Homo sapiens: one gene and its partners. The protein of the gene in region 2 interacts with the protein of the main gene of each other region in a pairwise test. Each region holds a gene or a part of one and is shown on either strand. Other genes may lie near its edges. The genes, in order: CTDSP2, N4BP3 and RFC5.

What was found.
Region 1: the proteins of N4BP3 (region 2) and CTDSP2 interact in binary tests that used the Homo sapiens proteins (3 or more experiments, as listed by UniProt).
Region 3: the proteins of N4BP3 (region 2) and RFC5 interact in binary tests that used the Homo sapiens proteins (3 or more experiments, as listed by UniProt).

Annotation. Positions count from the first base shown.
Region 1 is NC_000012.12:57,843,723-57,851,384, reverse strand, and holds the start of CTDSP2 (carboxy-terminal domain RNA polymerase II polypeptide A small phosphatase 2), read left to right. Parts: upstream 1-4,655; 5' UTR 4,656-4,949; coding exon 4,950-5,013; intron 5,014-7,623; exon of another isoform or gene 7,624-7,662. UniProt on the Homo sapiens protein: Preferentially catalyzes the dephosphorylation of 'Ser-5' within the tandem 7 residue repeats in the C-terminal domain (CTD) of the largest RNA polymerase II subunit POLR2A.
Region 2 is NC_000005.10:178,109,178-178,116,627, reverse strand, and holds the start of N4BP3 (NEDD4-binding protein 3), read right to left. Parts: upstream 3,097-7,450; 5' UTR 2,857-3,096; intron 1,863-2,856; exon of another isoform or gene 1-1,862.
Region 3 is NC_000012.12:118,019,613-118,026,713, reverse strand, and holds part of RFC5 (replication factor C subunit 5), read right to left. Parts: intron 7,083-7,101; coding exon 6,946-7,082; intron 5,809-6,945; coding exon 5,729-5,808; intron 4,429-5,728; coding exon 4,355-4,428; intron 1,864-4,354; coding exon 1,704-1,863; exon of another isoform or gene 1,700-1,703; intron 968-1,699; coding exon 886-967; intron 1-885. UniProt on the Homo sapiens protein: Subunit of the replication factor C (RFC) complex which acts during elongation of primed DNA templates by DNA polymerases delta and epsilon, and is necessary for ATP-dependent loading of proliferating cell nuclear antigen (PCNA) onto primed DNA.

The DNA of each region.
Region 1 (7,662 bases), on a different chromosome or scaffold from region 2:
CTCCATCTTAAGGGAAAACTGAGTCAAGAGGTTAAGTAATTAAGCGGTGGTGTTGGAGTGATGAGCATGCCTGCACCTTGCAGGCAGTGAGGTTTCCCACGCTGTTGCACAGAGGAGCTATCCCCGCTACCACTAGCTCCTCCCTCCCTCTGCAGCCCTCAGCATCTGGCACCCTCACAGCAGTTCAGTCATTAGCCACTGGGTCTCTCTCCCTCACCCCACCCCATCTCAGCCCCGATACTCTGCCCTGGGAAGCCAGGACAGGACCATACCATACAAGCCTTGTGACAGGAGGGCACCAAGCTCTGGAATCTTGGCATTGACATCCACCTACTCATGAACAATACAAAGCAGAACTGAGACTGCAGGGACAATCAGAAAAACCAAGAAAATCAATGTGTTCCTTTTTTTAAAAAAAAAGTTTTTAAGAAAAAAAGTAATATTTCAGTGACATCAGAGATAATCATGAAAGGTCGGTAGCCCAACCTTGTACTTATTTTCTGTGGGGAAAAGGGCAATTAGGCATCTCCCATGGAGGAAGCTCCTCCAGCTGTTTCCCTTTCGCCAGCCTTGGCTCGGGACACCCAGTCCGACTTCAGTAGCCACAGCAGGAGACAGACAGGGACAGCCACTCCATGTTTGCCCCACATAGCCCCCCATTCTAGCATTTGGGGGTAATGGGGACACTGCTGTTGTTTCCAAATTGCCTCTTACCAACCATGCAGTCAGAGAGGCCAGAGGAAAGGGGATACAGCAGGTAGGGAACCAAGTGAGAGTCAGTGGGCTTTCTCCTGGGAGAGTTGTTAGACCTGGCTTCAGCTATCTCCCTTGAACCACCTAAAATGAACCACCTAAAGTTACACAACCAGCAACTGGCCCAGGCCCCGTAGGCAGGATGTTATTTTTGAGGCTATTTTAGGCAGAAGTTAGAAGGTCCACTTGCCTCCCACCACCCTCACCACTTCAACTATAGGAAAGAGGCCCACCATGACCCTACAGAGCTTTCCAGAGTGCAGACCTTTTCCTAGTCATCTGTGGACAGAGCAGTGAGAAGCCTGTGGCATCAAGAGAGCAAGCCCCACCTATGTTTGGGGTTCCAGGCTCCAGTAGCGCCTCCACTGCTTTTGTAGTCTCTGGAAGCACAGGGGTCCTCACCAGGCCTCTTGGGAACTGCCCCTCCTCCCTCATTTACCCCTCCTTGCTGGGTTCTATTTGTACCCTTGTGCCTCTGGCCTTGGAAGGGGTTCTATCTGTTATACATAAATTTTTCTTTGACCTCAGAGCAAGAAATGCTTGAGGACCATCTCCTCTGCATCTTTCAGGGACAGCCAGAGCCCTGAGACACACATGAAGGCATCTACTGCATCCAGGAGTGAAAGTAGCATTGTTTTAACACTGGGTCACAATCCGGTGGTGGTTTGTGAATTCAATTTAAAAGGTCATGGCTGGCACCTTAAAACCATCAAATAGAACACAATACGTGCAATAGAAAATATGAGTGTGCACACATAGCCAGGGTAAGTATTGTCCATGAAACTTTTGTATCATTTATCTCACAACATAAAATGTGTTTCTTGCTGTAGGTCACTGAACAAATCCCTGGACAAAAGAACACTGGTTCAGACATAAAGTCAAGGCCAGGCATGGTGGCTCACACTGGTAATCCTAGCACTTTGGGAGGCCAAGAGGCAGGTGGATCACCTGAGGTCAGGAGTTTGAGACCAGCCTGGCCAACATGGTGAAACCCCATCTCTACTAAAAATAGAAAAATTAGCTGGGCATGGTGGCAGGTGCCTGTAATCCCAGCTACTCAAGAGGCTGAGGCAGGAGAATTGCTTGAACCGGGGAGGCGGAGGTTGCAGTGAGCCAAGATCACGCCACTTCACTCCAGCTGGGGCAACAGAGTGAGACTTCATCTCAACATGTACAAGTCACCTGTTCTGTGTTAGGCACTCTGCTAGGCACAAGAAATCCAGTAAAGAATAAGACATCCCCTAGTCTCAATCCACCTTCTGGTTGGGAAGCCAATAAGCACACAGTTGCAAGATAGGGTGCCAAGTGGTCTGAGAGAGTATGTATGAGGCTATAAAACCCTGACATGAGGGCGGGCATCTGGGAGGGCTTCCAGGAGAGGTGATGCAATTGGAGTTCACAGCAGGAAAAGAGAGCGATAGGTTCTAGTGTCTCCTCCATCCTATAGATAAGAAGGGAACTATGTTAAAGTGTCAAGGGTTCTAGTCTTAAAGTCCAAAGACATCCTGTCTCCTCTTCTTAACAAGCTGTGAGGTCTCAGGTGAGTCAATTAACCTTCCCAGACCAATTCCTCATTTACAAAACAGGCATCTATAAAAATGGGCATAATATCTGCTCTATCAACCTCAAAGAAGTGAGAGATCAAATGAAATAGATAATATATGTGAAAGTACTTTGTAAATTACAAAAGGGGAGGTATTGTCTCTATGGATGAGGAAATGGAAGCATAACGAAGTGAAGTGTCCTGCCCTACAGTGCTATGGGTAGCAGGCCCCTCTAAATCCTCAGTCCTCAGCTCCTGCCTGCATTCCTCCCACTGCAACTAATCTACCTTAGAAGAGGGCAGGGGAAGGGTCTAAAAAGGCCCCCATAGCAACCTGACTATTGAAGATTTACCTTAAAGATCCTATTGTTTTAATGATGGGAGGTGGGTATGTCAGAACTCCTCCGTTTCCCTTTCTGTTAATGAATTAAGATCTACCCAAATTCAGTGTTTAAAGTTACATAAGCATCATTCAGATCTGTAACAGCCACTTTCATTTTGGAAAAACAGCATTTCCATTAAAATGATGTTATATAAAAAGGTTTTGTATACGTGCGTAGGAACAGCAGAAACAGGCACACATGATCACTGTATGGCACACAGGCATATGCAGATCATGACCTCACCTGTCCTCATGAGGAAGGGACCATAGGAAGCAGGTGTCTGATAGTACCTGGCAAGCTTAGCTGTGACCTAGTTGTCCTCTAATCATCAGTAAGACCTGATGCATGTTGGGCAATGGGAACTGCAGCAGGAAGGAAGCCCCTTCCTTGGCAGGGTGAGTGCCACTGAATCACAGAATATTGGGGTTGGATTTAGCTCAGAAGTCACCCAGTGCAATCTCACTCTACACCACTCTTGCCGGCCTTGACTTGAACAGCTACCATTGTCCCAAGGCAGCCCATGTCACCTGTGGACAGATGTAGATCACTGGAAAAGACCTGATATTGAGCTGAAACCAGCCTTTCTGGAGCTACCACCGCTGGGGAACAAAAGCACCCACAACCTTGAGCAGAGACTCCAGGAGCTGTAGCCAGCGGAGCGTGCCCCGAGGCCTAAAGAGCAAGTGGGGAAGGCAGCCTGAGTCCACAAAGCTGAAGCTCCTCCGAGAGACCTCCATCCATCTAAAGGAAGCTGGGACTGTGGGGGCAAAAAGAGAGGGGTAGGATGAGGGAGGTAGGGAGGAGGGGCGGAGTCGGGGCCGCCTAAATGGGAGTAAGTCGGTGGGTGTGAGGAAAGCCCAGCACCTCAGGTCTCATTTTCAGTGTTTTGGGGGACACAGTCCCGAGGTCAGTTCCAGCTCTTATACTCTGGAGTCCTAGGTCCGCCCACACGCACACACCCCTTTCGGGATTCGAAGGTTGTACTTTTTTTTTTTTTTTTTTGAGACAGAGTCTCGCTCTGTCGCCCAGGCTGGAGTGCAGTGGCGCGATCTCGGCTACCTGCAATCTCCGCCTCCCGGGTTCAAGCAAGTCTTTGCCTCAGCCTCCCGAGTAGCTGGGATTACAGGCGCCCGCCACCACGCCCGGCTAATTTTTTTGTATTTTTAGTAGAGACGGGGTTTCACCATCTTGGCCAGGCTGGTCTTGAACTCCTGACCTCGTGATCCACCCACCTCGGCCTTCCAAAGTGCTGGGATTACAGGCGTGAGCCACCGCGCCTGGCCTCGACGGTTGTACTTTTATGTGACTTGGTACGTCCTTGATTCTAGGGCTAAGCAGGGGGGTAAGGTAACTTCCGATCCGCCCCATCCCCTGCTGGAGTCAGGTTAGGCTTAGCGGCTTGTCTTGGTCACCCCTGAAGGGGGAAACCTTTCCACCTTCCCCGAGTGCGCCCTCCGAGAAAAGAACACCCCAGCACAGAGCACCAGAACGTGAGCTTCGGAGCGGCCTTTTAAATAGTTGGGAAGGGGGTGTGGCCGAGGAGACTGGGAGGCCGCAGTCTGGCGCGGGGGGAGTGGCCCGGGGGCGTGGCCGTGGCGCCTGGAATGTTGTTAGGTCCTCTCACCGCATAGTAAGGAGGGGCCACGCCCCTTTTCTCCAAGAGAGCCAATCGGAGCACCGGAACGGTTTCAAGTCTCCCCCGCCAGCCTGCCCGCCCGCCACCCCACCCCCCTTGAGGATTCGCTTTTTCCGTAACAAAATAGCAAAGCTCCCGACTGTCCGCAGCCCCGGCCGCTCACAGATGGAGGGTCCCAGGGCCTAGGACGCAGCCCCCAGCGGGAAGCTCCAGCTGGCCGTGAAGAGGCCGAGTCGAGAGCCGGGAGGCGCGCGGGGGTGGGCGCTGCAGCCGCGGGTTGTTTATCTGGAGTACGGAGGGGAGGGGGGAGCCTGGAAACCGCCCCGTGTCCCATTTCCTCCTCTTGTTTTCGCTCCGGATTCTCCATGTTGGACCCAAACTGAGGAGCCCGGAGCTGCCGCTGGGGGATCGGGGCCGGGGGCACCCGGGGGAGCCGCTGCCCGGGCCGCCCGCCCTTTGTACAGGCCGCCTCCCTTCCCGGTCCGGGGAGGAAACGAGAGGGGGGATGTGAACAGCTGTGGAAGTCGGAGTCTCGGGAGCCGGAGCGGGCCCCCGCCCAGGCCCCCCAGCCCAGCCCAGCCCGCGCGCCCGCCCGTCCTCCCGCCCAGCCAGCCCGGGCCCGCGGGATTGTTAGATGGAACACGGCTCCATCATCACCCAGGCGCGGAGGGAAGACGCCCTGGTGCTCACCAAGCAAGGTAGGGGCAGCAACTTCCCAAAACTTTGCGTCGCCCCCGGGCGCGGAGGGGGCTAGCACAGCCCCGAACCCAGGTCTCGGCCCTTGACCTCCAGGGCTTAGAGCCAGCGATCCCGACTGGACCCCTCCGGTCCATCCGCCCCCGCATCCCGGCTGGCACTCAGACCTCCGTGGGGGTTGCACGGGGATCCCGGCGCCCGAGCGGAAAGGGCGTCTTCGGCGCAGCTGTCACCCTGTCCCGCAACCCCTCCCCCTCGGGGCTGAGAGACGGAGGGGTAGCTCTCGAAGCACTGGGCCACTCCGCGTCCACCGCCTCCGGAGTTGGGGGTGGGGTCGTCACTTTCCTTCACCGCCGCGCGCGGCTGCCCCGGGATCGCGGGGAGGGGTTAGGAAGGTGACAGAGGGAGCCCCAGGTGGAACGGAACCGAGACTGGAGTCCAGCACTTGCAGGCCCCCCCAAGCCCGAGGTCGTTCGGGCAGCTAGCTGGCGGTGACGGCGTCCGGCGGGACTTGGGACCAAGTTCACCTCTTGGAGGCGGGGGCGGTCGCGGTGGGGGAGGGGCCCGGGCCCTGGCGCACCAGACGTGGCGGGTTCCCGGCTCAGCGCAGGCCCCGGGACCTTGGCGGCGTCGGGCTCCCTCCCGGCTGCCTCTGACCAGTTTCGCTGAGCAAACAAGCCCGACCCTGAGGCCCGGCCAGAGCCCCTCCCTGCCCGGTGCGCTCCCCCGGGGCCGGCGCTGCACACACAGAGCCGCGTTTGTTTAGCCCGGGAGCGGTGTCCCTGGTTACATAATTCGCCGGATGGCATCAGACCCGGCGTGGTTCTGAATCGCGCAGCGAAAAAGTGCGAGTTCTCTGTGGGCAGCGGCTGGCGGCCCCCGCCTTCCAGAGCGTCAGGTGGAGGCGCGAGGGGGCCCGCAGGCCCTCGCGGGGGTGAGGCGGAGGCCGAGGCCTCTCCCGGGGCGGGAGAAAGCTGGGGCCCGAGGGTGGAACCTCTTAGTTTGGTCACAGTGGGAGACTCGAAACTCTTTCCCCCTCCGCCACGTTCTTCTTTTGGCCTTGAGGAATGTGTCCAAAATAGCGGCAGATTTTCCGCGGGGTGTAAGGACGAGTGTGGCGTTTCTCTAGAGAGCCCCCCGACCGGGGCCACCTGGCCCCGGAGGCTGGGGCGGGAGCTGGCTCCTGGGGCCGAAGCCGGAGCGCTCCCTCCCCTTCTCCACCGAGCGCGAAGGGCCGGTGCTGCAGTTGAACACACTGAGGCCTAGAGCCTGGTGGGCGGCCAGCTTCGGGGCCTCGTGCGCCCCACGTCTCCCCGTTTGGCAACATTAGTCAGCAGGTCACTAATTCCTGGGGTTCACGTTCCAAGGAGCTCCCCCAACTTCCCTAGGGGCAAATCCGCTGAGTTGGTGGTGTCAGCCTCTCCCAAATTCCCTCAGTGGAACGAGAGGAGCTGGGAGGGGGGAAGGGTGGGGGGAGGGAGGCAGTGTGTTCCTCTTGCATCACTGGCCGGACTTTAAATAAGCCTGCCCTGAGAAGGGATGGCCTTGCCTACTCAGATCCCAACCCCCGAGAAGGCTCCGGCCTCCCTGACCTCGGTGTTGCCATGATTTCTGCTCTCCTGGCTGCATCACTAACCAGGCTGTGACCCAGGCAGCAACTTCACCGCCTCTGCTGGCTGCTCAACTGTGCTGATGGCTGAAAAAGGAAGGGAGCCTGCGTGTGTTTATAGCTCACTCCTGACTCTTCCCACTCCCTTTTTATCCCAGGAAAAGACCCTAAGAGCTAGCCAGAGGGGAAGAAACCTAGATGTGGGGGGATTCAAGAGGGGGCAGTGGTGATGAGTAGGGGGAGGAGCCCTGTGCTTCCCCACTAGGTCTTCCTCTCTTGCAGGGACTCTCTTGCAGGGAGTGTGCCTTGGGCATCGTGGGGCCACGCGAGGAGTAAGGGAAAGCTGGACTGCGCCGGGGCATCTTAGAAATCAGAGCTGGAAGTTTCATCCACCAGGGTGAATGGCAGGCTACAGAATAGATAACAGCAGAAAGCAAAGCAACTGGCTTGACAGTGTTAAGTTGCTGGTGTTGGATTTTCTTGGAGTTAATGTTTCTCCTTTTTTGTGTGTGTGGTTTAAGCCAGCAGCCACTGGGTCTCTCCCTCCCCATGTAATTTTTTATTTTAATTGAGATGGAGTCTTACTCTGTTGCCCAGGCTAGAGTGCAGTGGCGCAATCTCAGCTCACTGCAACCTCCGCCTCCTAAATTCAAGCAATTCTCCTGCCTCAGCCTCCCAAGTAGCTGGGATTACAGGCGCGCGCCATCACGCTTGGCTAATTTTTTTGTATTTTTTAGTAGAGACAGGGGTTTCGCCAGTTGCCCAGGCTGGTCTCGACTCCTGAGGTGATCAGCCCCCTTCGGCCTCCCAAAGTGCTGGGATTACAGGCGTGAGCCACCGCGCCCGGCCCCTCCCCATGTAATTTGATTGCATTCCAGAGAAGACAGACTTTCTTCCTGGGCTGCTTAGGCACCCAGCAACCACTAAACCAACTTTCTGAGTCCCACATCATTTACAAACAAAACCTACGTCTTCAAAACAAAACAAAAAACAAAAGCTGGGGGACTGGGGAAGCAGATGTTTTAATTGGCTCCTTTTGGAG
Region 2 (7,450 bases):
AGAGAGCCCATGTTAGAGGACACGGTGCAGACGGTCACGTCCAGCAGCAAACACAATCATACAGCTGTGCACAAGGTCACCCACAGGACACACTGACAAAGCAGGAGCAGCCCAGTGGCATGATGACCTAGTGTCCTTCCCAGCCCCCAGGCTAGTGAAGGAGCAGCAGACAGCCCCTTCCCTTTGTCTCTCCTTAGGCCCCCCACCGTCCCCACTGTGCCCCTCCTGGCTGACTGACTGGATTATCAGCTCCCCCAGCAGGGCGGGGGCCCCCAGCTTTCAGGACACTCCTCCCTGCGTATGTCACAGAGTGGGGACAGTCTCTTTTCCTAAAGGGGTCCATCCTACCTCCACCCCCTCCCCCAACACATACATTCCTTCCTTCCTGTTGCTTGGAAGCCCAGGGATTGCCTGCTCCGGGCAGGGCAGCTGGGCAGGGCAGCTGTGCAGGCGGAGGGGATTTGGTGGGGGAGGAGGGAGGGAGGACAGCAAGTGCCTTGCAGCCTCACTGGAACATCAGAGCAAAAAGCCGGGGACCCTGCACGGGTCGTGGAGAGAAGGGTAGGGGACAAGCCAAGTGCCTGGGCTTCCCTGAGCTGGGAGCGGCAAACCCCCAGCCACACAGCTGGCTAGATTTGGGCTGGGACATTCAAGCCACATTCTCCACAGGTCCTGGCTAGCCCCAGTAAGGCCTCTTCACTCCTGCTCCCCGCCACCAGTCCCCTCACCCCTCTCCAGTCCCCAAGATTAGCAGGCAGCACTGGAATCTCTGAACACGGAGAGGAATTGCTTTCGGACCAATCCTTGGTGGAGATGGAAGACACAGCTGCCCTGGCCAGGAAGCAAAGAAGGAGAGGACGCGCTTTCTTTGAGGGGGGCGTCCCAGAGCCTGTTGGTGCCCTTTTGGGTCACGCCAAAGGGCACTATCACATCCTCACAAGACACACAGGAGATGAGTTCTGTCATCCCCCACTTCACAAGAGGAAACTGAGGTTCAGAAAGTGAAGTAACACGCCTAAGGTCACGTTCAGCCGCAGGGGAGAAAGCACACAGGCTCCAGGATTAGAAGTCCTCTCGGATCCCACCTTGCATCTCCTCTGGGGTGGGACATTCCAGTCCCCACATGGGCAGGAGTGCTGCCTGCCCTGGCTACAGTCAGCCCCTCCTGAGCCCTGGCCCCAGGGAAAGGTCCCACCACCTGCTGGGGGATCAGCTCTGCTAAGGGGCGTGTCTGCAGCTGCCCCTAAGGAATGGGACTGGAATGTCCCAGCTCCAAAAGGGGGGGGTAGTAGGCAAGGGGGGCCCAGAGAGGGGCTGGGAGAGGCTGGCCCACCCCATCCCCTCTGTGACAGACACTTGAGGCAGAGACAGGGGCTAAAGCCTGCGGAAGTGGTGCTTAGTATCACCATATAGTGCTTCACGGCTGCACCGCAGTCTACAGTTTTTTCTCAGCCCTTCTATTTCATTATCTCATTTCATCTCCACAATAGCCTCGTGGGGGCAAACAGGACAGTAATTACCCTCACGCCATTTTACAGATCGGGAAACTGAGGCCTCGGAAGGCGAGGTGAGTTATCCAAGATCCCACAGTGAGAAGCAATCTCAACTCCCTGGGCAAGGTCCTTTCTACCTCAGCAGGTTGTCCTAAGCCAGGGGTCACGGGTTCCCCTCCATGGGCACACACTGCTGTGTATGTATTGCATATATGTCTGCCCAGCCCTCCATGCCTGTTTCTCCCAAGGACACTTGCAACCAGGCTGCCCTAGACTGCGGTCCACCAGGCCTGGAATCCCTCCTGCTGCCCCCCAGGTCAGGAAGAAATAGAGGAAACCTGCCTCATGGGGACTCCGAGTCGCTATGCTAGCTCTAGAGGCGGTGGCAGAGGCAGGCTGGCCGCATTCATTCACAGTCTGGCACATGCACACCACACGCTGCCAGCCGGTAGAGAAGCCCTGCCTGGGAGGGCCCTGGGAGGAGGCTGATAACCGCGCCCAGGATGGCCTCCTGCGTCCGCTCCCTCCCGAGGACAGCCAGGCCCAATCTGTTCCTATGTGGTTGGGGTCGGGGGGTGGCCCAGTGGGAGGCAACGGGTCTCAGTTCTCTTTCTGGATACAGCCAGGGCCCTGATTTCGGCTTGTCCCCAGGCCAGCCCTCACTTGGGCCAAAGGCTGTGGCCGGGACTGGACCGGGTGCTCTGGCGGTCAAGACCTAGGAATGTCCCCTACCCGCAGACCCGCAGCTGCAGCCTGGTGGACCGGCAGGGGGTTGGGGGATAAAGGAGGTGTGGGAGGAAGCGAGAGATCTCATGGGGAAGTCAGAGGGGCAAACGAGGTTGCATCCCCACGGAATTTGTGTCAGGAAAGCAGGGGTGAAGGCGAGGGTTCCCCAAAGCTGCGGGAGGTCCCGGAGCTACCTGGGGGGCGGGGTGGGAGGCGCGTCTCCTCCTGGCCCCTCCCTGAGGCCTGCCGGGAGCGGCTGGGCCGGGGGGCGGAGGCCGAGGTCAGACGCCGGCGCCAAGGACGCCTGCCCCACCCAGCCGTGGCGCAGGGGTCCCGCGCGCTGCTCCCTGGAAAGCGCGTTTGCAGGGGTTGGGGAGAGCAAGGTAGCCTGCCGCCTGCCCCTCCAGCGGAGCATCGGGGTCGGTCCCCGATCCGGTGCCTCGGTGACCGGGAGCAGGGGACACCTGGGCGCACGCCGCACCTTGCCACCCCCGCCCATCTCTCAGACGGGAGCCTCGGCCAGCGGGACAGCAGCTTTGCCAAGGACGCCCGAAAACAAGACCTTGGCGACCCGCCCCACCCCTCCCCACCCCCCGAGTCCAGCCCGGGTCCCCAGCCCCTCGCGCGCCCCACTTACCATGGTGGCGACGCGCTCGCCGGCCCGCGGCTCCGCAGCCCTTGCGCGTCGCAGCTCCCCCGCGCGGATTTGAACCCTCCTGCAAGGCGTCGGCTCGGGCCGGGACTGCGTGCCGGGTCGGAGCGGCGGAGCGGCAGGCGCCGGGAAAACGCGGGCGGGCGCCGGCGCCGGAGCCGGATTGGCGAGGGAGGGACGCGCTCCGCGGCGCTCGATCGCCTGCCCCAAAGGCGGAGGGAAAACCCGGCCTGACTCACCGGCGCGCGGCAAGCCCACAGCCCGGCCCCGGCCCCCGGATGTGGGGGGCGGGGCCGCCTACCCGCGAGCCAACCTGGGCCCCGCCCGGCCCCGACCGCGCCCCCGGCCCTGACCCGCAGAGGCGCCGCACGGCGGTGGCGGGCGAAACCTGGACCGGCTGCGCCTCGCGTCGCTGCCTCCTTGAGCGCCCCGGCTCGTTCCCGAGGGGTGGGCAGCCCCGAGCGCGGCCCACGCCCCAGAGAGCGCACAGCGCCCCCGCTTCTCCTCCTCCGCCGTTCGCCTCGCCCGCCTCCTCTAAGGAAGAGGCGCGTGAGGTCCCTCACCTCCCTAATTGTAGCCGCCTCCTCTCCGGAAAACCTGATTTCCCCCCTTTGGGGATGAACCACAGTAGTACTTTGAGAAGTGAAAAGATTTTACCCCACGACTCTGGCTGAATTGGGCACAGAGTTATTTTCTTTTTGCCTCCAAAGTATTCTAGGGGCAGCAAAATCAGGTGCCTTCAGGGGCCAGAAAAATTACGCAAATGAGTCGTGAGCTTCCTACTAAGACAGTAGGAAGACATGGAAACAGACACAGACACGTAAAGGAGTCATATTCGAAAAATTAAAACACCGTTTCTAATTCAAAAGTTAAGCATAGAGTTACCATATGATCCGGCAATTATAGTCCTCAAACAAGTAATGTTCTTGGCAGTACTAGTCACAATAGTCAAAGAGCCAAAAGGTGGAAACAGCCCAAACTAACAATTGATGAGGGTGTAAGCAAACAATGGTAGATCCATTCAGTGGAATATTATTCAGCCATAAAAAAGAAATGAACGCCATGTGATGACTCATGTCTGAACTCTCCCAGCACTTTTGGAGGCCAGGAGTTCAGGAACAGCCTGGGCAACTCACAAAACTCCATCTCTATCTTAAAAAAAAAAAGACCTGATGTGGTGGCTCACCCCTGTAATCCTAGCATTTTGGGAGGCCGAGGCAGGCGGCTCACTTGAGGTCAGGAGTTTGAGACCAGCCTGGCCAACATGGCGAAATTCTATCTCTACCAAAAACACCAAACATTAGCCAGGCATGGTGGAGCGAGCCTGTAATCCCAGCTACTCGGGAGGCTAAGGTAGGAGAATTGCTTGAACCCAGGAGGCAGAGTTGCAATGAACGGAGATTGTGCCACTACACTCCAGCCTGGATGATGGCGTAAGCCTGTCTCAAAAAAAAAAAGAAAGAAAAGAAAAGAAAAAGAGGAATGAAACACTGATGATACCTGCTACAACATGGATAAACCTCCAAAACATGGCAAGTGAAAGAAACCAGACACAAAGCCCACATGTGTTAATGATGCCATTTATAATAAGTAAATCCAGACAAACAGAAAGCAGATTAGAGCCAGAGGCTGTGGGGAGAGAGAAAGGCAGAGTGATTGCCTAACAAGCATAGGGTTTCCTTCTGGGATGAGGAAAATGTTTTGGAGCCTGACAGAGGTGGTGGTTGCACAACGTTATGAATATACAAATGTCATTGAATTGTTTGCTTTAAAACGGCTAATTTTATGGTATGCACATTTTACCTCAATTAAAAAACATCTTGTCACTTGTGGAACAGATTTGGTCTACGGCCCACAAATTTGCAACCCCTTGTGTTCTATGCTGTTCTTACCAATTCTTGCTAGGACAGCATAGAACCTCTAGGAAGAACTTCTGGCCAGGCATGGCGGCTCACGCCTGTAATCCCAGCACTTTGGGAAGACGAGGTGGGCAAATCAATTAAGGCAAATGATTTGCCTGCCTCAGCCTCTCAGTGTGCTGGGAGTACAGGCGTGAGCCACCATGCCTGGCTGAAAGAACTTTTTTTTTGAGATGGAGTCTTGCTCTGTCGCCCAGGCTGGAGTGCAGTGGTGCGATCTCAGCTCGCTGCAAGCTCCGCTTCCCGGGTTCACGCCATTCTCCTGCCTCAGCATCCCAAATAGCTGGGACTACGGGTGCCCACCACCACACTCGGCTAATTTTTTGTATTTTTAGTGGAGATGGGGTTTCACCATGTTAGCCAGGATGATCTCGATCCCCTGACCTCGTGATCCACCCCCCCTTGGCCTCCCAAAGTGCTAGGATTACAGGCATAAGCCACTGCGCCCGGCAACTTTTTTTTTTTTTTGAGATGGAGTTTCACCCTTGTTGCCTAGGCTGAAGTGCAATGGCGTGATCTCAGCTCACTGCAACCTCCCCCTCCCAGGTTCAAGCGAGTCTTCTGTCTCAGCCTCCCGAGTAGCTGGTTGGCACAGGTGTGTGCCACCATGCCCGGCTAATTTTGTATTTTTAGTAGAGACGGGGTTGGTCAGGCTGGTCTTGAACTCCCGACCTCAGGTGATCCACCTGCCTCGGCCTCCCAAAGTGCTGGGATTACAGGCGTGAGCCACCACGCCCGGCCAGAATTTCTAATAGAACTGCCAGACTTCAGAATACTTGTCTAAGAAAACTCATTAATAGCTGCTGTGGGTCTCAGCCCTTGAGGAGCCAGTCTGGTAGGGTTACTCACTGGGACAGATAAAGTTTCAGAGCAAGAACCTGTTTGGCTGTTTGGGGGACCCAAGGAAAGGCCTCACTGGAGCAATGGTTTTTGAGATGGTCCTGGAAGCATTTCCACTGAGGAGTGTTCCCAGCAGAGCAGATAGCAGGGCTAGAGAAGGCAGGGCACGTTCAGCTTGCTAGCAAGGTCCAAGCCCTGGGTGGGAAAGGTTAGTGGTGGGAAGGGACGAAGGTGGCAACCGAGAGCAGACCCAGAGAAGCCTCTTGAAGTGGGCGCTGGGAGCCTCCGAAGCATTGAGAGAGAGGAGCTTGTGCACGCAGCTGGACGTGGGGCCTGTGAGGTGGCACAGGCAGGCAGGGAGGTCGGGTCCCCTGGGTCTCTAGGGAAAGAAATGGGGCCAAGGAGGACCTGGAAGCTGGAAGCTGCCGAGAAGGTGTTCATTCTGTCAACTGAGTGGGAGAGACAGTGATAGAGATGTTTATGAGAGGGTTTGAATGAAGGTTCTTATAAGAATCCACTTGCAAGAAATGGCATGAGGAAGAGAGAGAGAGGTCACAGCTAAGTTCTGATGAAAACTCAGATTCTGGGTTGGGTGCAGTGGCTCACGCCTGTAATGCCAACGCATTAGGAGGCCGAGGTGAGAGCATTGCTTAAGCCCAGGAGTTCCCTGGGCGACATAGCAAGACCCCATCTCTATAAAAAAATAAAAAATTAGCCAAGCCAGTGGTGCCTATAGTCCCAGCTACTCGAGAGGCTGAGGCAAAAGGATCCCTTGAGCCTAGGAATCAGAGGCTGCAGTGAGCTATGATCGAACACTGCACTCCAGCCTAGGTGACAGAGCAAGACCCTGTCTTTAAAAAAAAAAAGGCCGGGCACGGTGGCTCACACCTGTGATCCCAGCACTTTGGGAGGCCGAGGCAGGAGGATCACGAGGTCAGGAGATCGAGACCATCCTGGCTAACACGGTGAAACCCTATCTTTATTAAAAATACAAAAAATTAGCAGAGTGTGGTCGTGGGCGCCTGTAGTCCCAGCTACGCGGGAGGCTGAGGCAGGAGAATGGCATGAACCCAGGAGGTGGAGCTTGCAGTGAGCCGAGATGGTGCCACTGCACTCCAGACTGGGCGACAGAGCGAGACTCCGTCTCAAAAATAAATAAATAAATAAATAAATAAAGGCAGGACACAGTGGCTCATGCCTGTAATCCCAGCACTTTGGGAGGCCAAGGCAGGTGGATCACCTGAGATCAAGAGTTCGAGAACCAGCCTGGCCAACATGGTGAAAATCTGTCTGTACTAAAAATACAAAAATTAGGCAGATGTGATGGCGCACTCCCATAGTTCCAACTACTCAGGAGGCTGAGGCAGGAGAATCACTTGAACCTGGGAGGTGGAGGTTGCAGTGTCCCAAGATTGCACCACGGCACTCCAGCAGCCTGGCTGACAGAGCGAGACTCCATCTCAAAAAAAAAAAAAAAGAAAAAGAAGGTGCTCAACTGCACTGCGCTCCTGTCCTGTCCATGCGGGCTGCCTCTTGTTCTCACCCCGTCTCCTTGACCTTGGCCTCCCATTGGCCTTGCTGAGGCCTTTGAGAGAAGAAAGTGGGCTGGGCAGAGGTGAGGAGGCAGAAACCAACAGGAGGCCAGGCCTCTTTTCTTCCCTCCAACATCTGCCTGGACAGTATGGGAGAGGCCAAGCTGGACTCCTGCTGGGATGGGGGGATCTTGTATTCAGTGAACTTTATTTACCTTCCTGGACCTGCACAGCAGATGCCCCTGCAAGGGGCCACTTGCCCCCAGACATGACATTCCTGTAGAGTTG
Region 3 (7,101 bases), on a different chromosome or scaffold from region 2:
ATGCCACAGCCTGTTGGCTATTCCAGTGCCAAATCCTTCCCTCCCTTTGCCTTCTTTGCAACAAATGATTCCTTTTGTTTTTAAAACATTTTCTTTTGCTCTCTCTTTGTTTTTTGAGACAGGGTCTTGCTCTGTTGCTCAGGCTGAAGTGCAGTGGCATGATCATGGCTCACTGTAGCCTCGACCTCCTAGGCTCAAGTCACCCTCCTGCCTCAGCCTCCTGAGTAGATGGGACTACAGGTGTGCACCGCCACACCTGGCTCATGATTTTTTAGTGGAGACAGAGTCTCACTATGTTGCCCAGGCTGGTCTCCAGCTCGTGGGCTCAGGCAATCCACCTCCCTCGGCATCCCTAAGTGCTGGGATTACAGGCGTGAGCCACCATACCTGGCCTGCAACAAGTGATTTTTTCAATTAATCAAAATACAAAGTGAGGAGGGGGAATCCTGCAGGTTATGAGACCAAGGTCTTACCAGCTGTAGATTTCAAAATTTACAGATTGATCATGCCTTTGCTTAGGTCTTTCTTCAAAAACTATTACAAAACAATGACTCAGGATTTGCTGGGACCAGGCTGGGCATGGTGGCTCATGCCTGTAATCCCAGCACTTTAGGAAGCTGAGGCAGATGGATCATTTGAGGTCAGGAGTTCGAGACCAGCCTAACCAACATGGCGAAACCCCATCTCTACTAAAAATACAAAAATTAGTAGGGCGTGGTGGCGGGCACCTGTAATCCCAGCTGCTCAGGAGGCAGGAGATTCGCTTGAACCCAGGAGGCGGAGGTTGCAGTGAGCTGAGATTGTGTTGCTGCACTCCAGCCTGAGCGACAGAGCAAGACTCTGTCTCAAAAAAAAAAAAAAAAAAGGATTTGCTTGAGACCATACCTGCAAAATGTTCAGAGCCCTACGCATGTCTCCACTGGAAAGAGTGACTAGTGCTTTCATTCCATCTTCACTTATATCAACTCTGAAAGAAATAAGCAAAAGGGATTTATGAGGCCCCCTGAGAGCACCAGCATTCACCAAAGGAACAAGATGGCCTGGAATGATTAAGGCTTTAAAGGGATGAAGGAAGGAGAGGAACAGAGTTAATAATCTCCTGATCTATATGATCTAGAATTCACTCTGGTTTTTAGGGACCTGGGCTTCACATTAGTAGTCACAGCCAACCAAAATCGAGAACAGCCTGAATTTAGGAACAAGCATTCTCCCATGGAGCCAGTCGTCTTGAATTCTGCTCTCTGGGGAGGACAGAGGCCTGGCACAAGCCATGATCACACAGCCGAAACTCCTCCTTCACAACAAGCAGCTGCTCAGGTCGGCTACTTGCTTGGCATCTGACTACACAGAATGTGATGTCTTAGAACCTTCCCTTCTAGTCTAAAAAGGCTGGAAGCATCTTTGCAGAAGGGACTCAGCAGCCTGCAGTTTCCAATGACAAAGAAGAGTAGGAGGAAATTGGGACAGCTTCCAGGGGAGGAGGATGGAATCAAGAAAAATGAAGTACCAAATGACTTTTATGAGGAATGGCCTTGAGACAGCAGAGAAAATGATAGCAGTGGACGGTCCCCAGTGCCTCCCCTGTGCTAGGCACTCTGCAAAGTCGTTTTCCAACATTCCTCTCCTCTACATACGAACCAGCCAGTGATCCCACAAGCCTGTTTCTACTACACTCCATCCCCAAAGGCCCGCAAAATACTCACTTCTCTTCTTCCACGACATGTTCCAGGCGGGGAACCATGAGTTCAGGAGTCAGGGGACCGAACCGAAACCTCGTGCAGCGGGACTGCAAGGCAGGGATGATCTTTGACAGATAGTTACAGATGAGGCAGAATCTGGTATTTTCTGTGAATTTCTCAATTACTAGTAAGAGAAAATAAAACCACCTCATGTCAAAGTCCATTCTGATTTTTCAGAGAGCCCAGAAAACTTGAATTTTTCTGTGGTCACAAGGGTATAGGAAAAGATTCAATACTGCAAACAAGTGAGGATGTTGGCCGGGCGTAGTGGCTTAGTGGCTCACGTCTGTAATCCCAGCACTTTGGGAGGCTGAGGCGGGAGGATCACTTGAGGTCAGGAGGTTTGGCCAACATGGCAAAACCTCTACTGAAAATACAAAATTTAGCCAGGTGTGGTGGCACATGCCTGTAATCCCAGCTACTTGGGAGGCTGAGGCAGGAGAATTGCTTGAATCCGGGAGGTGGAGGTTGCAGTGACCCAAAATCATTCCACTGCACTCCAGCGTGGGCAACAGAGTGAGACTCTGTCTCAAAAAAGAAAGAATGTAAACAAGTGAGGCTGCAGCCTATGACAAGACAGGGCAGTGCTGGCCTGTTCAGATCAGAGATTAGCCACTCCTCTTTTTTCTTTTTTGAAACAGAGTCTCGCTCTGTTGCCCAGGCTGGAGTGCAATGGCACGATCTTGGCTCCCTGCAACCTCTGCCTCCCGGATTAAAGCGATTCTCCTGCCTCAGCCTCCTGAGTAGCTGGGACTACAGACACGTGCCACCACGCCCGGCTAATTTTTTATATTTTTAGTAGAGACGGGGTTTCACCATGTTAGCCAGGATGGTCTCGATCTCCTGACCTCATGATTCGCCCGCCTTGGCCTTTGGGATTACAGGCATGAGCCACTGTGCCAGGCCAATTTTTGTATTTTTAGTAGAGATGGGGTTTCATCGGTTAGCCAGGCTGGTCTCGAACTCCTGACCTCAGGTGATATGCCTGCCTCAGCCTCCCAAAGTACTGGGATTACAGGTGTGAGCCACTGCGCCCTGCCTAGCCACCCCTCTTTCACAAACTGGTAAACATGCCTCCGTGGGATTTTACAAAATGCTTCCTTTTTACCATTTGCCATGATTCTGGCACTTTTGCCATGTAATCCCATTAAGACTATGAGACTTCTTGTCCTTTTACATAAAATTATATTTGGCAGGTTGATGACACTTCACCTTCTATGGGCAGGGAGGGCGGCTTTTTGCAGACTTTTCCATGGAGACTGTCTGGAGGCCTTAGAGCACTCAAGGGAGCAATAACCCGAACAAAGAGTTGCTTATGACACCGGTTCCATTCTGTAGGTACCCAATGTTCTCACATGGGGATCTGCCCAGAATGACAGTCACTCGGCAGAACAAGATGCCGAAGAAAGGCTGCCAAGCTTCTAGGACCAGAAGATATTCTCGCTGTCCTCCTCCTCCTCCTCCTCCCCCACCTCTCCTCCTCCACCTCCCCCTACCCTCCTCCTCCGCCTTCTCCTCCCCCTCCTCCTCCTCACCCCCTCCTCTTCCTCCCCTCCTCCCCCCTCCTCCTCCTCCCCCTTCCCCCATCCTTCTCTTAACATGTGCTGCCATCTACTCCCTCGCCACAAACTCCTAAAGATCGTTCTTCTCTCAAAGCTGATTCACTTGGAATCTTAATGAGAGATGACAAGTGTCCTTTAAGAGAAAAGAACTGCGCTAGGCCCCTGAAGACAGACAAATCGCAGGGTGCTGTCCCTCCCGCTGCCAAATCATTCACTTGGCAAGCAGTGAAGTAATATCAGCTCTCTGAGCACCTCAACTTCAGATATGCTTTTCCTAGCCATTGTGGTTCAAAGGGTACCATTAGTAGAAAGGAGAGGGTACTATTAGCAGAAGGACTATCTGATAGCTTAAGGATGAAAGATTTTCCACACCCCATCCCACGGAAAGATATGAATTCCCAACTCTGAAATTGAACCCAGTGTCAAAGGAGGTTGAACACCAGTGACTGGCCAGACTTAAAAGTCCCCGCAGGGCTTAGTCCCTAGGCTGCTGAAGGGGAAGTCCCGCTACAGAGGTATCTAGCCTGTGTCATTAGATGGGAGACACAGAGAAAGGCATAGAGATTTCTCTGGGCCAGAAGATGAAAACTGAAAACAAGCCAAGCCATATCTCACATCCTAATTCTCCTGTAATCCCAGCACTTTGGGAAGCTTAAAGTTCCTAATTCTCCTGTAATCCCAGCACTTTGGGAAGCCGAGGCGGGCGGATCACCCAAGGTCAGGAGGTCGAGACCAGCCTGGCCAACATGGTGAAACCCCATCTCTACTAAAAATATAAAAATCAGCCGGGTGTGGTGGTGCATGCCTGTAATCCCAGCTACTCAAGAGGCTGAGGTCAGAGAATCGCTTGAACCCAGGAGGCAGAGGCTGCAGTGAGCCAAGATTGCGCCACTGCACTCCAACCTGGGTGACAGAGCAAGACTCTGACTCAAAAAAAGAAAAAAAAACTCCCCCCCGCCTAAAAAAACAATGACAACAGCAACAAACACAAAGTTCCTAATTCTCCTTCCAGTGTGCACACCAGCCCAAACGCTCCACAGTGCCTCTGCTTACCTCTTCTCAAGGCATTCTGGGCGTCCTGAGTCATGGCGTCTGCTTCATCCAAGATCACTAGCTTAAAGCCTTTCCTAGAAAAACAAATGGTGCTGTCTAAAGATTTCTTCAATCTCATCTCAACATCTGGGCTCAAACCTATATCTTCCCATTGTGCCATCGGGCCCTGTCTCAGAAAGACAATTTCTTCTAGAACTTTGGCCAAGGCAGACATCTTTGGTCACTCAGAGAGGAAATGCCGCATCACTCCTTCAACCCTTGGTGGGAATGGAGGAGACTTCTCTACTTCTGTGCGCTGTGTCCTCTGGCATCTTCACTTTCCTCCACATGGCACCCTACCATGCTACTGCTTTTCCCGTCTCCCTCACTCATGCCTGAGTCCCTCACCCTTTTGCTTTTTTTGAGACTAAGTTTTTGCTCTGTTGCCCAGGCTGGAGTGCAGTGCCGCGATCTTGGCTCGCTGCAACCTCTGCCTCCTGGGTTCAAGCGATTCTCCTGCCTCAGCCTCCTGAGTGGCTGGGATTACAGGCGCCCACCACCATGCCCAGATAATTTTTGTATTTTTAGTAGAGACGAGGTTTCACTATGTTGGCCATGCTGGTCTTGAACCCTTGATCTCAGGTGATCCACCTGCCTAGGCCTCCCAAAGTCCTAGGATTACAGGTGTGAGCCACTGCGCCCGGCCCTCACCCTTTTTCTTTCTTTCTTTTTTTTTTTTTAGCCACCATCCTAGTTGTCCTTCCTGATCTCAATTTATTTTTAAATTCAAACTAGCTCATCCAGTCTTAGGGTAATCTAGCCAGTTCTCAGGAACTAAAAATGAAGTTAATGCTCCCTAAAGAACTTGGTAATGCAGGCTGGGCTCACGTATGTAATCCCAGCAGTTTGGGAGGCTGCGGCGGGCAGATTGCTTGAGCTCAGGAGTTCGAGACCAGCCTAGGCAACATGGCAAAACCCCATGTCTACTAAAAAATACAAAAATTAGTTGGGCGTGATGGCTCACGACTGTAGTCCCAGCTACTTAGGAGGCTGAGGCTGGAAGATCGCTTGAACCCAGGAGGTGGAGGTTGCAGTGAGCCGAGATCATGCTACTGCACTCCAGCCTGTACGATACAGGGCGACCCTGTCTCCAAAAAAAAAAGAAAAAAAAAACAAACTTGCTAATACAAGCGTAGATAACATTTTATTTTAACAGTTGCATTATAACGCTTCTTACTACCATCCCTCTCGTTTATCTCTTTTCCATGGTTGCTTTGGACAAAGTCACTTTTTTTTTCAACCCATATAAACTGGCTAAGGAGAGGATTAAAAAATTAACCCATATCATCTTACTAATCAAAATCAAGGGAGCGAAATTACACAAATAATTCTTACTTAAATATTGTCCTTGTGCTAGCAAAGCTCAGGATCGGTCCTCGAATGATGTCTATTCCTCGGTCATCTGAAGCATTCAGCTAAATGTGGAAGACAGAAGACAAAACAAAAACCATGTTGCTGTGCTATCTGTGAGTTCTTGGTGTTAGTGTATTTCCTCATCAGTCCAGCTCAGCAGGCTAGCTCTCTATGTCTAATGATGGCTAAGAGATCATCATAAAATAAAAAATCAGTTTTACACAAAATTCACTAAATTAATAAAGATGGCTATATTACCCCCACCCTTTGAGGACAATGACTGACATAAATTGGAGAAATAATTAATTGGTATGGTTACACTGAACAGCACCTCTGGTATGAGCAGAATGATACAAATTTCAGCTACCACAATCCTAAGTTACCAAGTTCTTAATAAACTGAAATAAGGACATTAGTAGCAGCAAAGTTCTGAGACCTGCGTCTAAAAAGTAAGTTAAACTTTTCTTGCAATAGACAATACTCAGATTTTTGAATCTAAGTATATTAGTCAAGGTCCCAGCAATATACAGATGGCATACTCAAATGCAGCAATTTGAAGAGAATTAAACAAGATCTTTTTAAAGGTGTGATATAGGAAAACCATGGGGCTATGCAATACCTGTCACCCTTGAGCCTGAAGGGCTTAGTGAAGGGAGTGGCTGTAGGCACCTGGAGAGGGCTGCAGGAAAGGTACCACCTGTGAGATGTACCCTACAGGTGGGCCATGCTGCCAGCCTGTGTCAGCCCCCAGGGAAGGCCCAGGCATCACTCACTTCCTTCCCCCACCCCTGCCAAGGCCCCTATTGGCCAAACCCAACCAGGAGCCAGAGGGTAAGTGAGCTTATAGTCAGTAGGGCTCAGCCTTCCAGGCAGGAATATGGTGGAGAAACGTGGAGAATTGATCTAGAGGGGCCATGGCAGACAGGCAGCAACCAAGTCACCATAAAGTAAGGTTTGGGGAGAAGTTGGCAAGAGCAAAGAAAAAGGTGCCAAACCCTACAACTGCCCTCTAGCTGACCAACGCTAATCCAGACCAAAATGACCATTATAGGAAAAAGGGAATTAAAATATTCAAATTTACTTCTTTCCTAACTGTCCGTGGGGCAACTTACTTTTAAAGTAAAATAAAACCAGCAGAACTGAAATTAAGAGACTGGAGTCTCTTAAGTTATTTGTAGAGTAAGAACAATCTTATTTACCTCCAAGACCATGGAGCCAAATTCTTTGTCTTTATATAGCTGTTTCGCACAGGCTAGGATGGTAGATGTCTTGCCTGTCCCTGGGGGACCGTAGAGAAGCAAGTGTGGCAGTCGGTCTTCATTGATAAACTTCTGAACTGAGGATCAGGAAGGAAG